Homo sapiens: one gene and its partner. The protein of the gene in region 1 purifies or fractionates together with the protein of each later gene. This does not show direct contact. Each region holds a gene or a part of one and is shown on either strand. Other genes may lie near its edges.

Region 1 (13,148 bases):
TGAATGTGGGAAGGCTCAATATTGTCAATATCTCAGTTCTTCTCAACTTGATATGTAAATTAAATGCAATCTCAATCAAAATCTCAGCAAGTTACTTTGTGGATATCTACAAACTTATCCTACAGTGATATGGAAAAGAGAACCAGAATGTCCAACACAATGTGTAAGTAGAAGAACAAGTTAGAGGACTGACACTATCCAATATTAATATTTACTATAAAACTATAGTAATGAAGACAGTGCAGTACTGGCAAAAACAAACAAACCAAAACAGACAAATAGACCAATAGAACAGAATAGAAAATGCAGAAATAGACCTGCACAAATATAGTAAATTGATCTTTGACAAAGAAAGAAAGGCAATACAATGGAGAGAAGATAATTTTTTCAACAAATGATGCTTAAACAATTGGACATGTGAAAGCAAAAAAATGAATCTAGATGCTAATCTTACCTCTTCCACAAAAATTAACTCAAAATTAATTATAGGCCTAAATGTAAAACACAAAGCAATTAAACTTTAATAGATAACATAAGAGAAAATCCTTGTGACCTTGTACTTGGTAATGAGTTTTTAGATACAAAACTAAAAGACAATCTATGAAAAACAAATTAATAAATTGGACTTCATTAAGATTAAAAAGCTCTTCTCTGTGAATATCACTATTAAGAAGATGAAAAGGTAAGCCACAGATTTGGAGAAAACATTTGTGAAACACATATTCGATAAAGGACTTGAATACAAAATATAAAGAAACTCTTGAAACTCAACAATAAGAAAATATGTAATTTAAAAAATGGGTAAAATATTTGAATAACTACTATACCAAGGAACATATACAGGCAGCAAATAAGCATATAAGGTGATGCTCAAAATTATATGTTACTAGGAAACTGCAAATTCAAACAACGAGATACCACTAATGCCTACTAGAACAGGTAAAATTCAAACACTGACAACAGCAAATGCTCTTGAGGACATGAAACAAAAGGAATTTTAATTCATCACCAGAGGAAAGGTGCAGCCACTTTGGAAGACAGTTTGGCAGTTTCTTACAAAGCTAAACATAATCTACCCTACAATCCAGAAATTGTGCTTCAGGTATTTACCCAAATGGGTTGAAAACTTATGTCAGCACAAAAACCTGAACATGAATGTTTACAGCAACTTTGTGCTTGCCAAAATTAGAAGCAAATAAAATGTACTTCAATAGCTGAATGGATAAACAAACTATGGGACATTTATACAATGGAATAACATTTAGTGATAAAATGAGCTATCAAGCCATGAAAGGGTATGAGGAATCTTAAATATTTACTGTTAAATGAAAGAAGAAAAGCTATATACCACATAATTTCAACTATATAACATTTGTGGGGTATTGAAAGACTGTAGGGAGGAATAAATGGAGTACAGTGTATTTTTTAAGGCAGTGAAAATATCTTGTATAATACCACAATGATGGGCACATGACACTATATATCTGGCAATACCCACAAAACTGTACAATACCAAGAGTGAACCATAATATAAATTGTGAGCTTTAATTAATAATAATGCCTCAATATTGGTTCCTCAATTTTAACAAAGGTACGTCACCCATGCAAGATGCAAATAGTAGGAGAAACCATGGGCAGGGGAAAGGAAATGCATGGAAACTCTCTGTACTTTCTGTTCTGTTTTTCTTTAAATGTAAAACTGCTTTAAGAAATAAAGCTTATTAATAATGTATATATTTTTCAAAAACTTCAAAAAATCTAATTAAATAGAGATCTATACCATGTTCATTGATTGGAAGACTCAATATTTTTAAGACAGCAATTCTGCCAAAATTGATCTACAGACCTGAGAAAATTCCAAAGAAAACATAATTTTTACTTAAATTGACAAGTTGACATCAATATTTGTATGGAAATGCAAAAGACTACAAGAGCCAAAAGAAATTTGTAAAAGAAGAATAAGATTGTATTACTTGCCATGTCTGATTATAAGATTTACCATAAAGCTAGAGTAATCAAAATAATGTGAAATTGTCATAAGAATCAATGACATGGCAGAGTTCAGGAACAGACCTATATATATATGACCAATTGATTTCTGACAAAGATGTTATGGTCATTCAATGAAGAAAGGATGGTCTTTTCACAAAATAATTCTGGAACAACTGATATCTATACGGAAAAAAATAATCAGTAATACCTTATATCATATCTACTAATTTGAAATAGATCATAGAAATTAAAACTATCAAATTTCTAGAAGAGAACAGAAAAAAAGTAGCTCTGGAGTAAATGAAAGATTTCTTAGATATGACCAAAAAAAACACAAAGCATAAAAAGAAAATTTGATTGAGGAAATAGGGCTTTATCAAAATTAAAGGAGTTCGCACTTCCAAAAGATGACATTTAGAAAATGAAATGCAAACAAAAAATTGGAGGAAAATATTATCAAAATATATTCCTTATATATTCCTTGTATATTGGAAGATACACAACCCAATTAAAAATTAGCAAAATATTAGAACAGACACTTCACAACACAAAATCTGATGCAAGAATAACCAACAAGAACACAGAGACATATTGGCATCATTGGTCATCAAGGAAATTTGGTTCTTCTCAATAATTTTAGTTTTTCTACTGAAATTCTCTATTTTTTTCACTTATATTTCCTTTACTTAATTGAGTATATTTATAGTAGCTGATTTTAACACTTTTCTATTAATTCCAACATCTGGGTCATCTAAAAATTAATTTCTGTTGATTGTCTTTTTTTCTTGAAACTGGGCCACATTTTCCTGGTTCTTTGAATGTTGAATAGCTTTCGGTGGTATCCTGGATGTTAAGTTGTGAAGACTCTGGATTTCATTATATCACTCCAGTGTTGAAGTTTTTGTTTTACTACTCATTTAATTTGGTTAGATTCACATTGCAACATTTGTCACTCGGGTAGCAACTCAAACCTCAGCTCAGTATTTGGTTATTGTTTTTGTTTGTTTTAATCTTTAACTGGGAAGCATTGAATCTGTTCCATATACACATGATTCAGGGATAAAGTGGAGATTTGTGCGTAGATTATACCTAGAAATTTGGACTATTCCAGTGTCTCTTCTTTTCAGTCTTCTATTTTCACTTTCCATCTCAGGACATTGTCCCAAACTCTATACTCTATTTCAGGAAAACTGTAATTTTTCTATGACTGTTTGCCCCTGGCAATACTGTGTGCAATCTTCTCTCAAGTTAAAAGGCATTGAATGTGCCATTCCTTCTTCCAAGCGTTGATTCCCCTTTAAAATATGCCTGTTTTGTTTACATTCCAGTGCTTTCTGGTTTTGGTTGTTTCACCCCTACAGGAGATGTTATCTGGGGGATGGTAAGGTCTAGTAAAAGTCTACTCAGCAGTACTGAAAACTTATACTTCAATAGTTTCTTAAAATGTTAAGCATTGTAATCCCAGCACTTTGGGAGGCCGAGGCGGGTGGATCATGAGGTCAGGAGATAGAGACCATCCTGGCTAACAAGGTGAAACCCCGTCTCTACTAAAAATACAAAAAATTAGCCGGGCGCGGTGGCGGGCGCCTGTAGTCCCAGCTACTCGGGAGGCTGAGGCAGGAGAATGGCGTGAACCCGGGAAGCGGAGCTTGCAGTGAGCCGAGATTGAGCCACTGCAGTCCGCAGTCCGGCCTGGGCGACAGAGCGAGACTCCGTCTCAAAAAAAAAAAAAAAAAAAATGTCAAGCATATATCTACCATTCGACCCAGAAATTTCGCTCTTGGGTATATGACTAAAAGAAACAACAACATATCCACAAAAAATCTTATATAAAAGTTCATAACAACCTTATTACTAACAAGCAGAAACTGAAAATAACCCCAAATGTCCACTAATTAGAAAATGGATATACAAAATATGGTATATCCATACAATAAAATACTACTGAACAATAAAAAGGAATAAACTGCAGATAACTTACAAAATAAAGAATACATCTCAAAAGTAATATGTGTGCAAAAGAAGCCAGATGTAGAATAATATATATTGTCTGAATCCTTTTATAGGAATTCCAAGAATATGCAAAGTGAAGCCACAGAGAAACATAATCAAAAGTGTAGTTACCTCTATGGGTTGGGGCTGAAGGTGTAGATTGAACATTTCTGATCTGTGCTTTTAACTGAATGTAAATTATACCTCAACAAAATTTTTGAACAGAATGATACATTTATGGTCCAGAAGAAGTCAATGGTAATTTCACCACCTGTTCAATGAACTAGGCATAGAATTGGAAATGGGAGACCATACTACAAAGCTCATTTTTAAATTTTAAAGCCATTGCAATGGTCAAAACTTGTGAAACATGATAGAAATTTTGATAGATGTGCCTCTAGTCATCCATAGAGAAAAGGTCAAGAAATTAAAAACAAAACACAAAAAGCCCATTTCACACATAGAAGGTAAAAGACTTATGTGTGTCTGCTCTTCAGTGTCATACCTGCATCTTGCATCCACATCTTTTCTATGATGGGCTGCACATTGTATCAGCATTGTTTGTGTATGTATGAACCTTGCTCATTGTTTCTCTAGGGGCCACTTAATTAATGTTCATCAACTTAATAAGCAAATCCTCAGCTGAGCTATAATTTCTCATAGCTTTATAAAACTAAAGTGACCTTAGGTGGCATGTGGTTGAGTCTCCTCATTTGCTAATAAAAATATTGAGGTTCAAAATGGTAGAGAGATGTACCCAAGGTCACACAAGCAGGGAACAGCAAATATGGGCCCTCAGATCTGACTTGAAGTCTGGTGCTCTTAACACTATGCAGTACAACCTCCTCAAAGGCTCACCTACTCCTTGACTCTCTGGGGAGAAGGTTTCATTACTTCCTATATACCAGTAGACCTTTCTCTAATCAGTAGAAATACATTTATTCTGATGGTTTTCTGACTGAGAAACTATCAGAAGTCCTGTCCCTGAGAAAAGGGTATGGTTGTTTATGTACGTAATCCTCCGGGCCAAATAAATACAAATCAAGAATTTAGCCTGAAGACAAGACAAGTAATTGTGGAAATCAATATTGGCAGGCTCTTTCTATCTGTGGTTTACTTTTTGGAGTCCAGCACTGTATTAGTCAAGGCTTCTTCAGTTGAAAATGACAGGAATCCAACTACAGCAAGCTTAGAAAAGAAACAAAAATCTATTGGCTTGAAAAATGGCATTTCTACCTTGAGACGTAGCAGGATCCATGGAGTCTTTCAAGTGTTCTTTCTCCATCTCTCAGCATTGCTTTTCTGCATGGAAGGAAATACAGTCACTGACAACTCTATACCTATACCATCCGATTCACTATTGTTCATATGACACATCTCATGGAAAAAAGCCTGATTGGAAATATTTGGGACATATGACCACCCTGTATCAATCACTATACATTAGGAGAACAGGTTCTACTATAGAGTTAGCCAGGGTCACATGTCCACCTCTGAGAAAGAGAAGAGAGGCACACATTTTACTAGCATATGGGGAATCATATGAAAAGGATCATTACTCTAAGGAAGGGATGCTTTGCTGAGGGAAAAAAAAAAGTTCACTTCAACACAAAGATCCCTCCTTAAACCAGAAGCCTAAACATATGGAGTCCCCTCCTAAAGTTGTTTGACATCCCAGGGCACTGACTCCTGCAAACTGTATTTCTTAGGCTGCTTTGTCAACTGACTTTCTTCTAGGTTCACCCAATGACAGGGTTTTGAAATACAGGTTAAAGGAGGGCCACAATATTTCTTTTCACTCTCAGCTTTTGGAGGACCCTCCAGCATTATCTGTCTCCCAGTAAGCATCTCCACTGTGGTCTCAGTTCCTTTAATGTAGCTTGTGCTCCTCATTCCTGGTAAAGCCTCCTCTCTAGCACTCCCCAGCCTGAGAGTGGTAGTACTTTCCTGCTAGTAACTATCATCGTGTTGCCTCATCATCCCCTAGTTGGCTTTTTAGTCATTTGAATCCTTTGTAATTTGTTCCCCATATTAAATTCTCTCTATTGAATTACAACATATAGATGCTATTTTTCTGAAAGAACTCTAAGATGTGTGTCGAGAGGAGGCAATCTCCCATATAAGGACCAGGTTCCCCAAAGAGAAAAGCCATTAGAGTTTGGCTGCCTCAGCTAATCTTAAAGTGGAGGAAAAAACAAACAAACAAACAAACAAACAAAAACAAAAAGTGCTGAGGAACACTGTACTTTAAACTATCAGAGAAATAATGTCTTTTTTATTGCTGTTTTTTAGAGACAGGGTCTCACTCTGTCACCCAGGCTGGAGTGCAGTGGTGTAATCATAACTCACTGCACCCTCAAACTTCTGGCTTCAAGCGATACTCCCTCCTGAGCTGCTGGGATTACAGGTGTGAGCCACCGCTCCTGGCCCTGGAAAATTACTCTCATTGAGCACCTGCGCCTGCATGCCTGGTCATGAATGTCAGCTGCTAACACTCTGGTAGCATGCCTACTCCTTCCTCCCATCCACATACTGTCTATGATTTCCTAGTCTCCTAAGACCTCCTTCTCAGTAAGGCCATCTTCCGAGGAGGAGCATCAACTCCTCCAACCTCCCAGCTCCTGGGTGTGCCTTGATACTTCCAAACTCACTGCAAGCGTCACTGGCACATGGTATGAAGCAGAGCGGGGGAGGCAGGACACAGAGCACTGGGTGTGACTGGGGAGGGCAGGCTTTCACAGCTTCCTCTGTGATGGTTTCTAATCCTTGCAGGCTCCCACCATTGGGTCTCTTTCCATCTGAAAATGGAGGAAATTAGACCAGCTGCCTAAAACATCAACTCTAATGTTCTAGGTTCTAAGATTCTGTGGTTAATTTAAGTGACAGAACCACATTATGGCTGCTGTTTCATCAGCACTGTGAAGACTGTACAAGCCACACCTCAGTATGTTGGCTGACCTTAAAAACACCTTGTCAGTACTTGATATAGACACTCGAAGTAATTCTAAGTTGCATCTTACTTTTCTTACTTACAATAAAATGCTGCTCTCTGATTATGAAGATTCATACTCCTTAGTACGAATGGTAAAGAATCATTTGTTTTCTCAGGTGGTCATTTCACTTTCAAAAGCATTTAAGAGGCAATTTTTTTAAGGGTGATATTTCAAGGTCAACACTTTCCGTGCTTTCTAATTCATTGTATTTGTATCATTCTTCAAAGATCCTTCATATTCATTATCTTTTTAAGCATAAGAGAATTGGGCTGTCATTTTTAGTTCTCATATGACACATGAATACACTGAGAGTTAGATTAAGTGAACTGTCTCTAGAGCATACGTCTGGCTATCTAGAATGTAATAACTATAAAGGGAGGGGATCTTTCTTATTAGGGTTGTGGGAAAGGTCTGTCACTGATGTTTCTAATGCTTAGAAGAGTGCCTGACACATAGTAGGTGTCAATAAACATTCGTTGACTCAATAAATGAATGAATCTAATTCGTGACAGAGCTGGGTCTAGAATTCTCTACTCCCTCAGCCATTGCTCCTTTAGTGCTGACAAGAGTTGTTCTATGTTCTCAAGCGCCCCACATTCCTTTGTCTTTTCTGGATGCACCTGTGGTTGGGTTTGTGAGGCGAGGCCAGTGAGCTTTCCTGGTGAGGTGCCACTGGCAACCCCGCCTCATAGCGACACAGGGGAGGGAAGCAGGGGGTCTGCGGAGGTTGCTCCCGAGAGACTAAAGCTGTTGCCCCCGATTTTCCAAGGACGCCAGTGAGGAAGGCCCGCCTGTCCCGCCGCCCGGGCACTGGCCTCACTTTGTCGCGGGAGGGGACCAGGGCTCTGGAGAAGGCCCGGGCCAGCGGCTGGGCGGGGCTCTCCGAGGCTCCCACCTCGCGGTCCCCGCCTGGCGGCCGGCGGCTGCGGCAGAAGGCGAAGCGGTCGTGCTCCCCCTCCCGGACACTGCGGCGGTGGCAGCGCCAGCCCCGCCGCGGCCGCCCACGGGCTCGCGGAGTCTGGCGGGACCTGCGCGGGGCGGGACCTGCGCGGGGCGGGGAGGAGGGGCCGAGGCGGAGCTGCTGCGCTGGGAGCCGGCTGGGGGCGCCGCTCTCAGTCTGGGGCGGGCGCTCGGGCTGCGCGGGCTCTGGGCAGCAGCAGCAGCAGCAGCAGCATCCTCTCTTCCTTTACTTCCCTTCCGCTTCTTTCTCTTCCTTCTCCTTCTTTTTCCCCCCCCTCCCCTTCTTCCCCTAACCCTTCTACCCCTCTCCTTTTTCTCCGGAGGGCGCTAAGTCCGTGAGCGGTGGCAGTCGCGACCGCGGGTGCATCCAGTTTCTGCGCCCAGGTAAGAGACCGTCCCCACCTCTGGCTCTATGTAGGGCGCCTCTCCTTTTGCCTCGGTCTCTGAGTAGAAAGAGATAGGAATGGGGAGGGGTTGTGTCTCGTCCTCTGGGACTCGCAGCAGGCAGTCTGGTAGTTGGTCGAGTGGCCAGCCGTGCACCTGGCGGAAGATTCGGGCCTGTCCTCTCCAGGTGTCACTGCGGAGCAGGGGGCCGGACGCTACTGGTACCTGAGCCCTGGCTTCGTAGAAGAGCGAGTGAGCTTGTTAGGTACCACTTTGAAACAACTGAAAACTTACGCCAGGTTAGAATACGTGTATCGAAAGCCAGTATTACCTGCGCTGTGGAAAGAAGGGGAGTGGATTCTACAAAGATAGTGGAAAATAGGAAATCGAGGTAGGGGATTTTTTTGTTCATCCAGCTGCAGAGAACTGCACACTGGGAAGTGAGTGAGTGAGGGAAGCCTTGTCCATTTCAAATCATGTTTCTCTGTAATTCCTTCAGAAACAGCTGGGAGAGGAGGACTGATATTTATAATTGTAGGAAAATGAAAAATAAATGCCTGGTGGTGTTGGAGGGCGGGGCACGAAGAAATGAGTCTGGTTAGGCTTCCACACAGTCGTTTTTCTTTTTAAACGTTGGGGGTGGACCTCTGAATCTACAGTGCATCTATTCTTTTCTTCCTTTTCTTTTTAAAAGGCTTTTTTGGTGGGGAGAGGAGGACTGCAGTGCTGGCTGCCTGCCTTCCCCCACCTCGTCTTTTGTTTAAGGATGGAAATTTCAAGAAAGAGTGTGTGGGGGGCTAGGAGTGGGGAGCTGTATATTTGGGTGTGTATAGGGGGAGGGGTATGGATGGAGTCAGAAAAAAAATCCTTGAAAACTGGAAATTAATGTTATTCTGCCTGGCATCCGGACTTCAGGATTTTTGTCAGAAAATAAAAAGCTTTCATTAGCAACAAGCCCGTTTGTGACAATTGCTGTGTGCCATCTGTCGTAAGCTCTTAGCACAATGCTTCCAGGACATAGACGCTTTAAAATTGAGTCCGGTGTAAAGGGTTTTTGTTTAAATGCCTAAACACACAAGTATGCACACAAATGTATAATACACTATATACATGTTACAAAAGGAAATAGGTACTTAAGAGACTGATTTTTTAAAATTGTATTTGAGGGTTTGGAAATTATGTTGTGAATAAAATCTGTAGTGCAAAACAAAAAAATATTGTTGGGTGGTATATAATTTTGGGTGTGAGGCAAAGGGATTGATGACTGTTGGTAAGGAACTAATTTAAATGTTAAAGGTATAATTTATTTTAAAATGATCAGTCTAGAAAAGGAAATGATTGCAAACTGAAATTGAGGTTTGCAGCCACAGTGAGGCGATGGAGAACAAAGCCTTCTATGTGAGCCACATTATGCAAAATGTCCCATGCATGAGCTGCAGGTACCAGCCCAGTTCAAAAGCATAGTTCTTTCACTATGTCATTTCACTGTGGACAATTATGATTTTTTTTGGCAGTCAAATAGATTGAATAAATAGAAGCCCTTTAGAATGCTTTTAATTTTATGCCCAGGGAAAAGATTACAGCCTTCCATCAGAATATAACACAAAGCAGCCCTTTAACCGGGCAATAGGTGTATTTTGGTAGAAATCCTTGTGAATTTGCAAATCATGGATGTTCCAAAAGCCCCAGCCCCATGCACACAAAGAACCCTTCCTTCAAGAAAAAAGGCATTTTTCTCATTCAGTAAGGATTATTATATTTGTGTGTGTATGTTTATGTTGATTTCCTGGTAATTTCATCTGATTATCATAGGTGTACATCTGCATTCATGATTTGTATATTATCAGAGCCATTGTGGCTTTAGGATCAGTGGTACATGCTGTTTATCTGTGGTTTATTTAATTTTAATTTTTCATATTTTACAGTTTGCTACAATATTATTTAATGTCCAAAGTTTTCTTTTTTAAAACCATAAGTAGAAAATTGCTTAACACACATCTGAAGATCTAAGTAATTTAAAAATAGAGCTACCTTTTATAAAATAATATTTTAGTTATATTAATTTTTATTTTATTTATCTCCTCTCTTATTTTTTTCCCTTTTCTAATCAAATAACCTGTTTCTTTATGGCTGCTTTAGTCTTCTATACTGCCATAGGAGGGCCAGTGTTTTCAAGAATTTTGAATTTAGGATTGTTCATTCTCTGCAGCACCTCTCAGGATGACTTGTTTACAGCACCTTCTCAGGGAGGAGACAGGGAAAGAATGTGCTGAAAGAGCATGACCCAGTGAAACTGGCACAGCCATTACCTCATCCTAGTAGGTACTTCAGATTCATTGAGAGAGCAGGCATCCTCTCAGTGGAAACCAAACACCAGGAGCACACCCATCTCAGGGCAAAAGCCTTTCTCTTCCCATAGCAGCCTTTACTAATGTCATTCCACTGAGGTTAAAGGGATATTTTCTCTTTTATGTATTCCTTTTCAGGGATCTTGAACTTGGTTAGAAATATGTAGCCAGAAATGAAACTTGGCACAGAATCCTCTAAGCCTGAAGGAATAATTTCATTCCTTTACCCCTTTTGGTTTAAACCAGTTCGCAAATTTTCTAAACATCAGAAGGGAAAAGGAAGAAAAATGTTGGTGTATTTTTGTGTATTTTCTTATCACACACACATATTTTGTATTGAATTTTACTAGCAGTTAGACAACAGACTGGACATGCTATTAACAAATGTAGTTGCACTGTTGGCATTTTAAAAAATCATTATTACATTTGCTTATAGGACAATAGGTGCATCCTTCAGTGATTCATTGATGTCCTTTTGAGACTGACCATATGAAACTGACATGGGGATTTTAGTATTCAAGTTGGTAACTCTGATTATTGAATCCTTTCAATACTTAATTTCCTCTTAACAGATTAAGATAAAGAATCTGAAATAATAGTTACAGTAGAAGATAGCACCACCCCCAGATCAATACTATCCTCCTTAATGCTAAAAGTAGTCACTTTAGGTAAGTCATTAGTAAATGCATGAACCTGAAGATAACAGTTTTGAAACAATCTCAAATTTTTTTGTCTCTGTTATAGATTAGTTAAAGATGCTAATAAACTCTTTGAGTCATATCTGATTCTCTCAGATATATCAAGTGTTTTTGCTACTTTAATTATCTCTTTACTATTGCCATTACCTTTATCTACTCAATCTAGACCTTTTCATGTAAGGACTGTATTTTGATCATTTCACCATATTTTCCCTCCCTTCACATCATTCTTTTTAATTCGACATTTGGATGTTAGACTTACTGTTCTCTAGCTATTTTGGTTTCAGTAATGTTACTCTCTTGATACAAATTTGGCCTTTATTTTTCATTAAGGAGAGCACTTATTACCATTTATGTATTTATTTATTCATTATGAGAAACAACTTTTGATATTCTCAGTTTTCAATTGCAGAAAATGATTCTAGGCACCAAAAGCAGTTAAAAGTCTGCAAATTAATATGTAGTACACAAAAGGCCAAAGTCAAGGGAGACAGTCTGTATGAAGGTTTGGGTGGGTGGGTAGGTGGGTGGGCGTAGAGGAAGATGTGGAATGAAAGCAAATTCTCAGCTATTAAAAGCTGTCCATGTAGGGTAGAGATGAGCCTTTTTGTCTAAGAGGGTGAAGAAGGAATAAATGTTTTGTTTTTCTGTTTCAACATATTTTGTCCCCATCCCTCCCCTGTCATGTCTTTGAACTAAGGCCATGGTGCTTCCTTATAAAAATTATACAGTATGTTTATTGGAAGGAGTTTTACAGTGAATTAGGTGAATTCAGAATTTTAAAATGATGTGAACACAATTAGATGAATTTTTATGAAAAACACTTTGAATCTAATCTTTGATCTTTCCTGTTCAAGACATAAGCTTTCCTTTGAATGGTAGTACTTTAACTGTAATACATTTTACTTAAACATTTCAGTAAAATTCTATGGAAAGTTAGACAAAATAAAGAGCTCAGGATCCTCTTTCAGTCTACTGTTAAGTTTATATTGTGGAAGTTGGGGAAAGTTTTAGACAGTTTGTTTTCCGTTAAAACACACACTAGAGGGGGCAAATTTCTTTTTTTTTTTTTTTGCTTTTTGTTATGTTAATGAGCAAATAATTTACTTTTAAGATCACATACCTTGACTTTTTTCTTTCCTTTTTTGTCTTCTTTCCATTCTCCTCTTTCCCTTTTCTTTTCTTCTTTACTTAGATTGCTCCTTTCTTTCAGTTTGTATTGGCAAAATAAACATTGGTCTTTAGAAAATGAAATTATAGCCTGATATTCTTATTGAAATTTATTTTTCATTATATTTATATTTCTCATTTAACATGAAGTTTTATGCTAACCTCTCCTCCTTCTCAAGGCTCCATCCCTATCTTGGTCCTTTCTTTGAACTTGGCTTTTATATCCCCTAGGCTTCAACAGTTTTTTCCTTGTATACCAATCTTTCATAACGCTTTGTACCTCAAAAAGGCCTTTAAAAACCAGAAGAAAAGTTACTACCCTATTTCTCCCGATTAGTTTGTATCCAAGTTTATTCAGGTTCCCTTAGGTTATAGGTAATTGCTCGCCTCAATGTGTCCTCATTAGCCTTCTTTGAATTACTTTATTTTATTTTATTTATTTATTTATTTATTTATTTATTTATTTATTTATTTATTTTGAGACGGAGTCTCGCTCTTTCGCCCAGGCCGGAGTACAGTGGCGCCATCTCGGCTCACTGCAAGCTCCGCCCCCCGGGTTCACGCCATTCTCCTGCCTCAGCCTCCCGAGTAGCTGGGACTACAGGCGCCCG
Region 2 (12,267 bases), on another chromosome or scaffold:
ATTAAAAAGTCAAGCAACGATAGATGCTGGTGAGGTTGTGGAGAAATAGGAATGCTTTTGCACTGTTGGTGGGAATGTAGATTGGTTCAACCATTTTGGAGGACAGTGTAGCAATTCCTCAGGGATCTAGAACCCGTATTTATTTATTTTTTTGTATTTTTATTAGAGATGGGGTTTCACCATGTTGGCCAGGCTGGTCTCGAACTCCTGACCTTGAAGTGATCTACCTGCCTCAGCCTCCCAAAGTGCTGGGATTACAGGCGTGAGCCACTGTGCCTGGCCTTGAAATAATATATTCTCTACCACTGTATTTCTGCTAAAAAACCAAGAAAATGTGGCAACACTGGGGTAAGAATTTCACCCAAATTTCAGCCTAGATAACAGCATACATAGTTGGAAATGGCAACACTGCTGTGTATGCCAGCAGCGTCCCCTTAGTTGGCAGAAACATGTCTGCGGATCCTGTGCTCCTGAGGAAGTGCCGAGACATGCACCCTGCGTCATCCTAACATCGCAAGCATTGGTGTGGTGACCCAAGATAAGCCATCAACTTGCAAAGAGCAGAAAGCATCCAGATGGAGCCGGAAGCAGCAGATGTGGGCCTTGACATTTTCACTACAGTCAACTGAGGACCAAACTCTGACATGCTAGCCTACTGACATTCCATTTCAAGGCTTTGGAAGGACTTCTAAAAGAAAAGTGTTGCTCTACCCATATACCTGTTCTTTCTTGCTTTTGTTTCTTAATGAACTCTGCCTTGATCTCCAATGATGCAGTCTGAATTAAACAATACAATATGGAAGATAATAATACAGACACTGACTTCTCTAAGCCTCTCAAAGTGATTCTGGAGAAACTTAAAATATTTCAAAACTCCTTAATACAAATTCAAGAAGTTTAGCATCTGATTCTATCACAAAAATAAATGTTGAATTTAGATTTTTAGAATATAGGGTGTATATGTATATTTATAAATGCTTAAAAGACAACAAATATGTAAGAATATCCTTAATAAACCCTAAGTATAGCATATCTCCTTTCCCTTATTCTTGTATCAGGTTTTCATAAAAGCTTCATATTAAGTTTTCGAGTGTTCTGAATCATAATAGGTCTATTAACTGCTGAGTAATTTTTAACTATTTTTAAAGCACGCTCTAAGTGTATGTAAAACTGGTGAAAACTGAATATGGTCTGTGAATTATGCCAATGTCATTTTCCTAGTTTTGATATTGTTATTAACAGTGATGCAAAACGCATTAGGAGAAACTGGGTGAAGAGTACACGGGACCTCTCAAAACTATTTTTGCAACTTCCTGTGAATCTATAATTATTTCAAAATAAAACCTTAAAAAATCATTTAAAACATGCTCTTTGCTTTGTTATTTACTAGTTTATACAGTAGAACTTTAACCTTGCTTGACTCCATTTCTTCCCAATCCCTGACTGCTCTAACACACACATACACACACACACACTCAGCAATGGGAGAGGGGTGTTGATCGAAAGATTTACTTATGTATTTGTCTTCTAAAACAATTCTTTTTCTCAGTCTCAAAGACCTTGAATCTTGTTTCCCATATAAAGGAAAAGACTGCATTTCAGATAAAGAGCACAAAACAGTATAAGGCTGTGATACAAAAATTACAGAATCTATTAAAAATCCATTTTAATCATTTGCTTAGTGCTTCAAAAATATAACTAGGAAACAAGGTACTATCATCTGCATGCTTTACCTGTGAACTTCAACAGTCTTCACAAATTCTACTTTTGGTAGCCCTACTCCAACCCAGGTATCTAATATTATTGGTTCCAGCTGGGATCTTAGAAAAGTATTAGGGATTAAATAACATGTTGACCCACATGTAGTCTTGGAAGCCAAAACAGTATATGTTGCAGTGTGTTCCTTTCTTGGTGAATTTTATCAAGGAGCAGCCTCAGGAATTTTCATCATGAACTGATCATGCAAAACTCTATAGAATTTTCCAGTGTACTTTCTGGGTCCTCATTAATGTCATGGAACATTCACCTGTTTTTTCCTCTTATAAATGACTACAATGATGCAGAAAACCATTTGATGGTTTAATACACCTTCATTAGGAGTTAATTACATAAACAAAAATATTCAATAGAGTAATGACTATAAATGAAACCATTTTTAACAGGTCATTTGGTAGAAGTAATATTTATTTAACCCATCACTGCATACTAATTTTAGAAATATGAAAAGTTTATCAAGATCTACCACTACAGGAACCTTTTGGAATATAACCCTAAACTGAATTACATTTCAAAATATCATACCTGAGCAATGATTTGTTCTCCATCGTTGTATACTTTGGTGCCTATCACATCTACTACTTTCAGGCGTTCAGAAAACTACAAAGAAAGAAAAACAATATTAAATAGAAACAAATTAACTGGGTAAGCTTATCTAGTTCGGGAGTAAAAAACTGGTAGCCTATAGGCCAAATAAATCGAGCAGTGTGTAGGTTGTATATGTGTTTGTTGTATTAATTACCAGCCAGCATTTTAAAATAATTTTTCATAAAAATTCAATCTCCAGCTTCTCTTGAAAAATCAGCATCACATAGCCCATATTTCCACATGGCAACAATAAAACTATGGTGGGATAGCAGCTGTTTCTTTAATGAAATACATGTTCTCCAATCTGCCAAAGTCCCTTCCTGGCTTGGTTTTCTTCTCTGTGTTACCTGCCTAGCTCTGAAGGCACCAGATTTCCAATCCCTGACCTACTCTTATTTAAAGAAATATGCTGCTGGAAAAGATCAGCTGTCTACCACGCACTGTGTGATGTGGACAAAATTTTTACCAGATGTAAGCTGATAATCCAACAGAGACATTCAAAAGGAGAAGCACTGCTGTTTTGACACTTGCCATTTTATAAGATGTTGTGGGTACATATATATGCCTGTCTTTAATTACTCTCAAAATACTTCAAATATGACAGTGAAATAGAAAAGCATTTAATTTAATGATGAAGTATGGAAAATGAAGCTGAATTTTTAGGGTAACAACAACCTACTCTCTCTCATAAGTCTCTACCTTCAAAGATAAAAACCTAAGAGCTGGTCTCATTGAGAAGACCTCTGGGCTGAGAAATGAAGGAGCCCTGCAGCTGTGTAGGAAGACATTCCAGACAGACGGCAAGTACAAAGACCCCGAAGTGGGTGTGGGACAGGTGTGTTTGAGGAGTGGCAAGAAGCTGATGTGTCAACAGAGAGATGATGAGTGTGGAGCAGTAGGAAATGAGGTTGGGGAAAATGGGTGGGGGAATGGGACAGTCTGTGCAGAGCCTTAGAGGCCATGTGAGGAGGAGCTTAAATAGAGCAGTGCCACAACCAGGGATTTTAAAAGATGACTCTGCAATTAGCCAGGCAAGAGGTGATGGTGGTTCATATGAGTCAGTGCTAACTCGAAGGTTTTTGGCCTGAGACACTGGAAGGATATGTTGCCATCTGCGGGGAAAGAGAAAAGGAGTAGATTTGGGACATACTAGGTTTGAGATGTCTATTAGACATCTGAGAGGAAATCTTACATTTGCAGTTGGATAAGTAAGTCTGACCTTCAAGGGAGGGGCCTTGCCCAGTGATATCAATTTTAAGAAGCATCAATATATGGACAGTACAGGTGGTCCCTGACTTACAGTGGCTTGATTAATGATTTTTCAACCTTACAGTTGTTTGAAAGCGATAGAAACTATACTTCTAATTTTGAGTTTCGATCTTCTCCCAGGCTAGCGATATGCAGTACAACGCCAGGCAGAGAGCCACAACGCCCAGCCAGCCTCACCACAATGAGGTGAACAACCCATGCTCTCCAGTGCACTGTGCTGCCAGGTGACTGTTCCCAGCTGTAGGCTGATGTGAGTGTCCTAAGCATGTTTCAGGTAGGCTAGGCTGAGCTCGAATGTTCCATAGTTTAGGTGTATTAAATACATTTTCTATTTATGATATTTTCAACTCACAATGGGTTTATTCGTAAGGTAACCCCATAGTAAGTCAAGGGACATCTGTATTTAAGGCCATGGGATTCGACATGTTCACCAAGTGAATAAGTGTATCCTGAAAAGAGAAGAGGCCAAGGACAGAGGCCTGGAATGCCAGTTTTAAGAGGAGAAGAAAAGAGGAATAAACAGCAAAGATGACTGAGAGGAAGAGGCCAGAGAGGACATTCTATATCTAGAGAACGCCTCACTGTAAAGTTACAACTAGTGGCTCTTGTCTACATCTATGTGATTATATTAAGTCTGCTATCAGATAAAGACCACATATAAATTTGCTATAGATGCTGGGTAGGAATGTATTACTTTCAAATAACAAAACAAATGAAATTATAGATAGCAGAAGAAACAATGAGTTATAAAAATTAGCACTACCATTTAATCTTTTCAAATAAAAACATGGATAGATTTTTTTTTATTCAAAGAAATTTTTCTATAGAACTAAATATTCCTAGCAAAACAGAAACTTTTAAAGCAAAATAAAATAAAAGCATAAACATATACTTACCTCCAAAGATTTAAGGAATGGCAGTGACTCAATAAAGCTTTCATACATTTTTCTCTTTTTGGCATTGTTTTTCACAATTATTCTCCTGAAGGTTACCCTGTCCTACAGGCAGAACAGTTAAAGGGTAAATTTTATGGGGGTAAAGCTATACAAATAGTTTTATTTTATTCCCTACAAGAAACAATGATTGAAGATTCTGAAATAAAAGATTAACATCATTATACTTTTAATGCAACTCATTTCATATTTTTATTTCGTCAAGCACAAAATATAATACAGAACCACATAAAATACTGTTTTCTTTTTTTTTTTTTTTTTTTTTTTTAAAGAAAGCATCTGTTGACTTTTTATACATAACAGAAATCTGACCAATATGTTGGGTTCTGCCCACAAGGAGGCGCTGTCACAGCATTTTTAAATATGTATACTAGCACTCTGTTCTTTTACTCTGTTATGTACTCTACGTTCTTTTTCATATCCACATTATGTCAAAATTTTCTTGTCAAAAATGTGGAGGGATGCCCAAAGAAATTATAAATGCTTAAAGTGATGGCTACTCCATTTACCCTGATGTGATCATTATATATTGTATGCTGTTATCGAAATAGCTTATGTACCCTGTAAATATATACACATAATATGTACTCATAAAAAAAATTTTTATTTAATGTGAAGGCACAGAGAAACTACAACTATGTTTTTGAGTAAGATCTAATTCCAGTGTTTACCATGTTCACAGTCTAAAATGTTCCTGTTTATACTATCATGCCCTCAAAGATACAGAACTCGGTTGAAGAACTAGTAAAAATTTTAAGGATACAGCTCAAAACATTATTTTCCTAAAAATTTTATTTTAAATAATTTCTCATAAAATATTTTAATTCTTTAATAAAAGCCTCAATAATTATGTTAGATTGGCATTCATTAATAAACAATTATACCATTTTAATAAAGTAAAAATTGGGATATATTATTTAATAAATTACTATGCCAATATTTTAATTTTTTTTTACTTTTATTTTTAATTTTTGTGGGTACATAGTAGGTGTATATTTATGGGGTACATGAGATGTTCTGATACAGGCATGCAACATGAAATATGCACATCATAGAGAATGGGGTATCTGCCCCCTCAAGCATCTATCCTTTGAGTTACAAAAAATCCAATTACATTTATTTTAAAATATACAATTTTATTATTGACTATGGTCACCCTATTGTGCTACCAAATACTAGGTCTTATTCATTCTTTCTTATGCCAACATAATAAGGCTGAATTTAAATGAACTAGTGCAATGGAGAAAAATGCCAGTATAGATGAAAGTCTCTAGGTGTGATGGACTGCAACTGAATGTTTCTATCACTCTAAAATCCCTCTGTTGAAATCCTAATCACCCAGGATAGTATTAGGTGGTGGAGCCTTTGGAAGATGGTTAGGTCATGAGGCTGGAGCCCTCATGAATGGGATTAATGTCCTTATAAAAGAGATCCCAATGAGCTCCCTTGCCCCTTCCACCATGTGAGAACACAAGTAGAAGACGCTGTCTGTTAAACAGGAAAACAAGCCCTCACCAGACACCGAATCTTCTGGTGCCTTGATCTTGGACTTCTCAGCGTCCAGACCATGAGAAATAAATGTATGCTGCTTAAGCCACCCATTCTATAACAGTCTGTCATAGCACCCCAAAAGGACTAAGACACTAGGAAATTAAACATCTTGTTTCCCAATTTGGTATTGGCTGTAATTTGGACTTGTTTTACTCCTAATACTTTTTTTAAAAGAAAATTTTACAAGATAATTAGCACAAATATTGAAATTATTTCCAAGCCTGGCTCTGCATCAGAATAAGCTATAGTATTAAAAAAGATTTCTGAGACACCAGACCTTAATGACTCAAGATCTCTGCATGTAGGGCTCAATAATTCATAAATGCTCCCAAAGTGATTCTGATATGTAATCAGGTTTGGAAATCAGGTATAACACCATTGTATGGACAGCGGTTATTGCAAAACAGAGAAGACTCAAAATAGCTTAATGATTTAGAAACTAATCATAATCAGTTATATCTCTCAGAAAGAATTTTCCATTAGTAACCTACCTCTTCACACCCACTGTGACATATAAAGTCCAGAATTTCAAATACTTTCATCCTGAAGCCATTTCAAAAATCACCTTTCCAAATCATCAGTATAGTCACGTAGATCATGTTAGCCCTAAGGCTAATAGTGACCAAATATTATTTACAGAGTGAGACTATTCTGCAATGGACTTTTCTCTTGGGCTTTTTTTGCTTATCTTTACACACCTGTATTTATAAGGCAGACCTCCAGTCTGTTGACCTTAAAAGAAAAATTTATTTTCTACTCGACTCTCCCTGAGAAGGAGTTATTATAATTAGTCAAGTCACCCTTAAAAAGTAGGCTTGAAATACTAAGTAATTATGTTAATTATTCTAACTTTTTTAGAAAGCTATTATATGTCAGGAGGATTATCACAAACTGCCCATTTTTATAAAATTTAATAACATGTATAGACTACTAAAAAGCTCTGAAAATGCTTAATCCTATCTTAGGAACTTAAGTAGTACGTGCACTAGGAAATTCTGGGTCTTTTATACCCCATTAAAGTTTCTACAAGGGCTAAAAACTATCAGTATTCAAAGAGGCCAACCTATAAAACAGTTGATCTTATTCTGAAGATGTGCAAGGAGGCAGTTTCCTCACTGTGTGACAATCTGACAATCTGAATCTGAACGGCAACCCCATTGGAATGACTACATTTGAAAAGTAAACCTTCCTGAATAAAACAGGTCATGGCAGATGCTAGATTTATCCCACCACTTTAATTACAGGCAGACAAAGACTTCTGTGGGTGAAGGACTGTCCTGGTTTGAAGTTTTTTCTTTGCTGGCTTTGGGTATTCAAATCACTGACAGTTCTTTCCTTTTCCTGAGACAATTCAGCTTTTCCTCTAAACCTTAAAAAAGTGACTCATCACATTTTTAAATAAGTATATAATAACTGGTTCCAATTAAAAGAAATGTAAAATGTCTTGTCTCTTTGATCAAGAGATATTTTTTATCAGCTGAATTGACTTCAGAGTCAAATGCTGAACTGTGACTAAATAATGTGTGACTTCCACAATGCTATATACAGTAGTCCTTGGAAATGAGACTTTTAACAGACTTCATATTTACTTCAACCTCTTCTCTTTCCACAAAAGGATTTGAGAGAAATAACCCAATAAATGCATGTCAAAACTAGTGGGTGGGCTATTTTCAACAATTTTAAAAGAAAATACATATACTGTAAACATTTCCCTAAATCGATGCTGTTTAAGGTTTGGCCTGACATCAGGCAGTACTGCCATCTCCTGGGAGCTGATGAGAAATGCAAAAATCACGGGCCTCACCCCAGAACCACTGAATCAGAATCTGCATTTTAACTGGATTCCCAGGTGATTTGTAAGCATATTAAAGTTTGAGAATCACTACCTTAAATACAATCCTCCAGAAGGAGCTTTAGTAGTGCCTAATAATTTGCATCCTATCATATGTGAAAATATTGCCCGAATGTATCTTTAAACCAGCTTTTAAGTCTTGCGGGAATACCACATTAAGAAATGTATTTAAAAGTACTAATGCTCAGGTCCCAGTGCTGAAGATTCTGATCAATTTGCCCATGGTGAGGTCTAGGTAAGAGGATTTTTTTTGAGACAGAGTCTCGCTCTGTCGCCCAGGCTGGAGTGCAGTGGTGCAATCTCAGCTTCACTGCAAGCTCCGCCTCCCGGGTTCATGCCATTCTCCTGCCTCAGCCTCCTGAGTAGCTGGGACTACAGGCACCCACGACCGTGCCCGGCTAATTTTTTGTATTTTTAGTAGAGACGGGGTTTCACCGTGGTCTCGATCTCCTGACCTCGTGGCTAGGTAAGAGGATTTTAAAAAAATACTCCAGGTAATTCTGATGTGGGGCACATGAGCACAGCCACCAAGCATTTTTTCCCTACACAACTGCTTTTAAATGCAGAGTAGTTACCAATCAATTTATAGCACCAAGAGCATCCTTTTATACTGGTTTCTCAAACTCCGAATTTCTGATGCAGTAGGTCAGAATCAGTGGGTGGGGCCCCAGAATGGGCATTTCTAAAAAGTTCCCAAGTGATACAGCTGCCAGTGTTCAGGGGACCACACTCTGGGAGCCACAACTTTATCAGATTATAATACTTACCTCAGAAAGCTATCTGAGAAAAAGTACTTAAGGCTGTGTTTGTATGGCTGGTTATTTTCTAAGAGTGGGTAAGACAGGAGCATTCTGAATCTGAGTGTCTTTCCTGGGCCACCAGGTCCCAAGCTCCTGACTGGACTGGAGGAGTGGGGGCAATGACATCAGGATCTGACTTAGTGAAGTCTTAGTGCCCTACAGTTCAGCATTCAGTGGCTGCTTAATAAATTACCTGATGACTGATGATCTTTAAATTAAAATACTACATGCGGCAATTTGTAACACCGTCATAGCAATTGCTACAAATCATAACATTCAGGTCAAATAAGTATTTTACTCACCAAACCCCACAGAGCACCAGGAGAGGTAGCAGTGATTGTAGCTGCTCTGGGTGTATTGTACATTAAGGCCAGTTCGCCGAAACTCCCACGATTATCATAGTTACCAACACATCTTCCAACACCATCACATTTCACATAAATATCAAATGTGCCTCTGTTGGACATATGTAGATTGGAGGTTAATTCAAATAAAATATCATTAAAATAAAACATTATTTCAGAAAAGAGCCCTGTGAAATAAAAATCTTATTTCCAGCCTGTTATCCCCTCCGATGACAATAAAGGGGAATCAATCTGTGCCATCTGTTCCAGACCATGTGCCTGCTGGGAAAAATGGGACTAAACAATAAAAATTTGGAATAAGGAATGATAAAACTATAACTAAAGACTACAACCAAATAGTATATGCATAAAAAACCATCTGGAGAGGCCGGGTCTCACACCTGTAATCACAGCACTTTGGGAGGCTGAGGCGGGTGGATCACCTGAGGTTAGGAGTTTGAGACCAGCCTGGCCAACATGGTGAAACCCTGTCTCTATTAAAAATACAAAATATTAGCCGGGTGTGATGGCGGGATCCCATAATCTCAGCTACTCGGGAGGCTGAGGCAGGAGAATCACTTGAACCTGGGAGACGGAGGTTGCAGTGAGCCGAGATTGTGCCACTGCACTCCAGCCTGGGTGACAAGAGCAAAACTCCAACTCAAAAAAAAAAAAAAAAAAAAAAATCATCTGAAGAGGCTGGGTGTGGTGGCTTACTTACATCTGTAATTCCAGCAATTTGGAAGTCCAAGGTAAGAGGATCACTTGAGCCTAGGAGTTCAAGACCAGCCTGGGCAACATAGCAAGATCCCATCTCTATAAAAAATTAACCTTAAAAAAAGAAAGAAAATCATCTGAAGAAACATTTATCAAATCACTGACTGTAGTTATCTAAAAGCATAAGAATAGTGAGGGATTCTAGGCATATTCGCTATCTAATTTAAGAGTTTCTGTTTGTAACATGAACATATTATTACTTTTGTGATCAGAAGAAAATAACTTTTTAAAAAGAATCTAGCTATAGCAATTTGGTTAGCCACTACTCTACAAAACTTACTAGGGTCCTTTATAATCTATAGCAGACGTTGGCAAACTATAGCCCACAAACTGGCTATCTGCTTTTGTAAATAAAGTTTCACTGCAATATAAACACTCTTGTTTGTTTATGTGTTATCTATGGCTGGTTTTATGCTACAACTGCAGAGTTGAGTAGTTACAACAGAGAACATATTGGCCTGCAAAGCCAAAAATATTTACTCTCTGGCCCTTTACTTTAGATCAACCCCCATTCTAAAGTTAAAAAGTAGAAATTCAGACTAGATATCTAACTCTGGTCTTTTTATAGTTTTTTGGTGCTTATCTTTTAACTGGGGTTCTTTTTCTAGGCAAATAAGGTTCAGTTTGCATGTCACTGCACTTCCTATTACCCAGACCCTATATTCACGTAAACTGCATTCTTTGTGTGGATGACTGACTTTCCGCATACTGTATTTTATCAGAGAACATGCTTTCAAGGCTTGCACCTGTGAGGGCAGATAGAAAAAATTCTTTGGCTTTATTCTGTTGACTAAACCCTAACACAGACAAAGAGTGGGGACGTGCTGCTAAAAAAAAAAAAAAAAAAAAAAAAAAAGTGGCTTTTAACATTAGAAAATTATTATGGGCCAGGCCTGGTACCTCATGCCTGTAATTCCAATGTTTTGGGAGGCCAAGGTGGGAGGATTTGAATCCAGGAGTTCAAGACCAGCCTGGGCAACATAGCAAGACTCTGTCTCTACAAAAAACCAAAAAATTAGTCAAGTATGGTGGCACATGCCTGTACTCCTAGCTACTTGGAAGGCTGAGGCAAGAGGATCGCTTGGGCCCAGGAGTTCAAGGCTGCAGTGAGCTGTGACTGCACCACTGCACTCGAGCCTAGGCAAGAAAGTGAGACACTCTCCCTGCCCCTCCAAAAAAGAAAGAAAAGGATTATTAATAATAAAGAAGCAATAACAGCAGAAACATGATAGACAGAAGAAAATAATTGGCTTTCATGGCCAGGCACAGTGGTTCACGCCTGTAATCCCAGAACTTTAGGAGGCCAAGGTGGGCAGATCACAAGGTCAGGAGTTTGAGACCAGCCTGGCCAACATGGTGAAACCCCGTCTCTACTAAAAATACAAAAAAATTAGCCAGGCGTGGTGGCAGTCACCTGTAATCCCAGCTACTCGGGAGGTTGAGGAAGAAGAATCACCTGAACCCAGGAGGACAGTGGGTGCAGTGAGCTGAGATTGCGCCACTGCACTCCAGCCTGGGCAACAAGAGCAAGACTCCGCCTCAAAAATAAATAAATAAATAAATAAATAAATAAATAAATAAATAAATAAGAAAAGAATTGGTTTTCAATGTCATTCACGGATAGAATGACTGTTTCAAGGGAAACTACTAGAATTTGTCCCATGGATAATCATTTTTCAAGTACAGGGTTAGTTTCCCTCATCCAAAATTCTTGGGACCAGAAGTGTTATAGATTTTAGATATTTTCAGATTTTAGAATATTTGCATATATAGAATGAGGTATCTTGGGAATGAGACCCAAGTCTAAATACAAAATCAGTTTATGTTTCATATATACCTTATACACACAGCCTCAATATAATTTTATTTAATATTTTGAGTAATTTTGTACATGAAACCAAATTTGTGTACATTGAACCACCAGAAAGCAAAGGTGTCATTATCTCAACCACCCATGTGGACAATCTGTGGTTGTTCAGCATTACCATCATTCCTGACTCTGAATTTATATGCTACCAATAAGCCATCATTTTTTACTTGTATTCACACATAAGTACTTAACAGTAAAAAATAAGACATACCATTAACACAGTAAAAACTAATGTGTTTGGGGCAACTAAGCAGCATAGTAGCATCCCCAGAATACCTGCACCAGCTGCCAAACAAGAGCAACCACAAACAATGGCAGGCTTGCAGTCTCCACCTACAATGCTATATTCTGATTAAAGTTACTGTACCTCGTACACTAACCCCTTCGGGGATGCTGAATAAGCTGTTGTGTGCCTGCATTTTGACTGTAAACCATCACATGAGGTCAGGTGTGGAATTTCCACTTGTGCCATCATGTTGATGCTCAA

The links.
Region 2: the proteins of MAP2 (region 1) and PRKAR2B purify together in Homo sapiens (affinity purification with mass spectrometry; 4 studies listed by BioGRID and IntAct, with this or other methods). This does not show direct contact.

The regions. Positions count from the first base shown.
Region 1 is NC_000002.12:209,415,956-209,429,103, forward strand, and holds the start of MAP2 (microtubule-associated protein 2), read left to right. Parts: upstream 1-8,091; 5' UTR 8,092-8,321; intron 8,322-13,148. UniProt on the Homo sapiens protein: The exact function of MAP2 is unknown but MAPs may stabilize the microtubules against depolymerization. They also seem to have a stiffening effect on microtubules.
Region 2 is NC_000007.14:107,143,286-107,155,552, reverse strand, and holds part of PRKAR2B (cAMP-dependent protein kinase type II-beta regulatory subunit), read right to left. Parts: intron 9,246-12,267; coding exon 9,092-9,245; intron 4,632-9,091; coding exon 4,530-4,631; intron 2,377-4,529; coding exon 2,302-2,376; intron 1-2,301. UniProt on the Homo sapiens protein: Regulatory subunit of the cAMP-dependent protein kinases involved in cAMP signaling in cells. Type II regulatory chains mediate membrane association by binding to anchoring proteins, including the MAP2 kinase.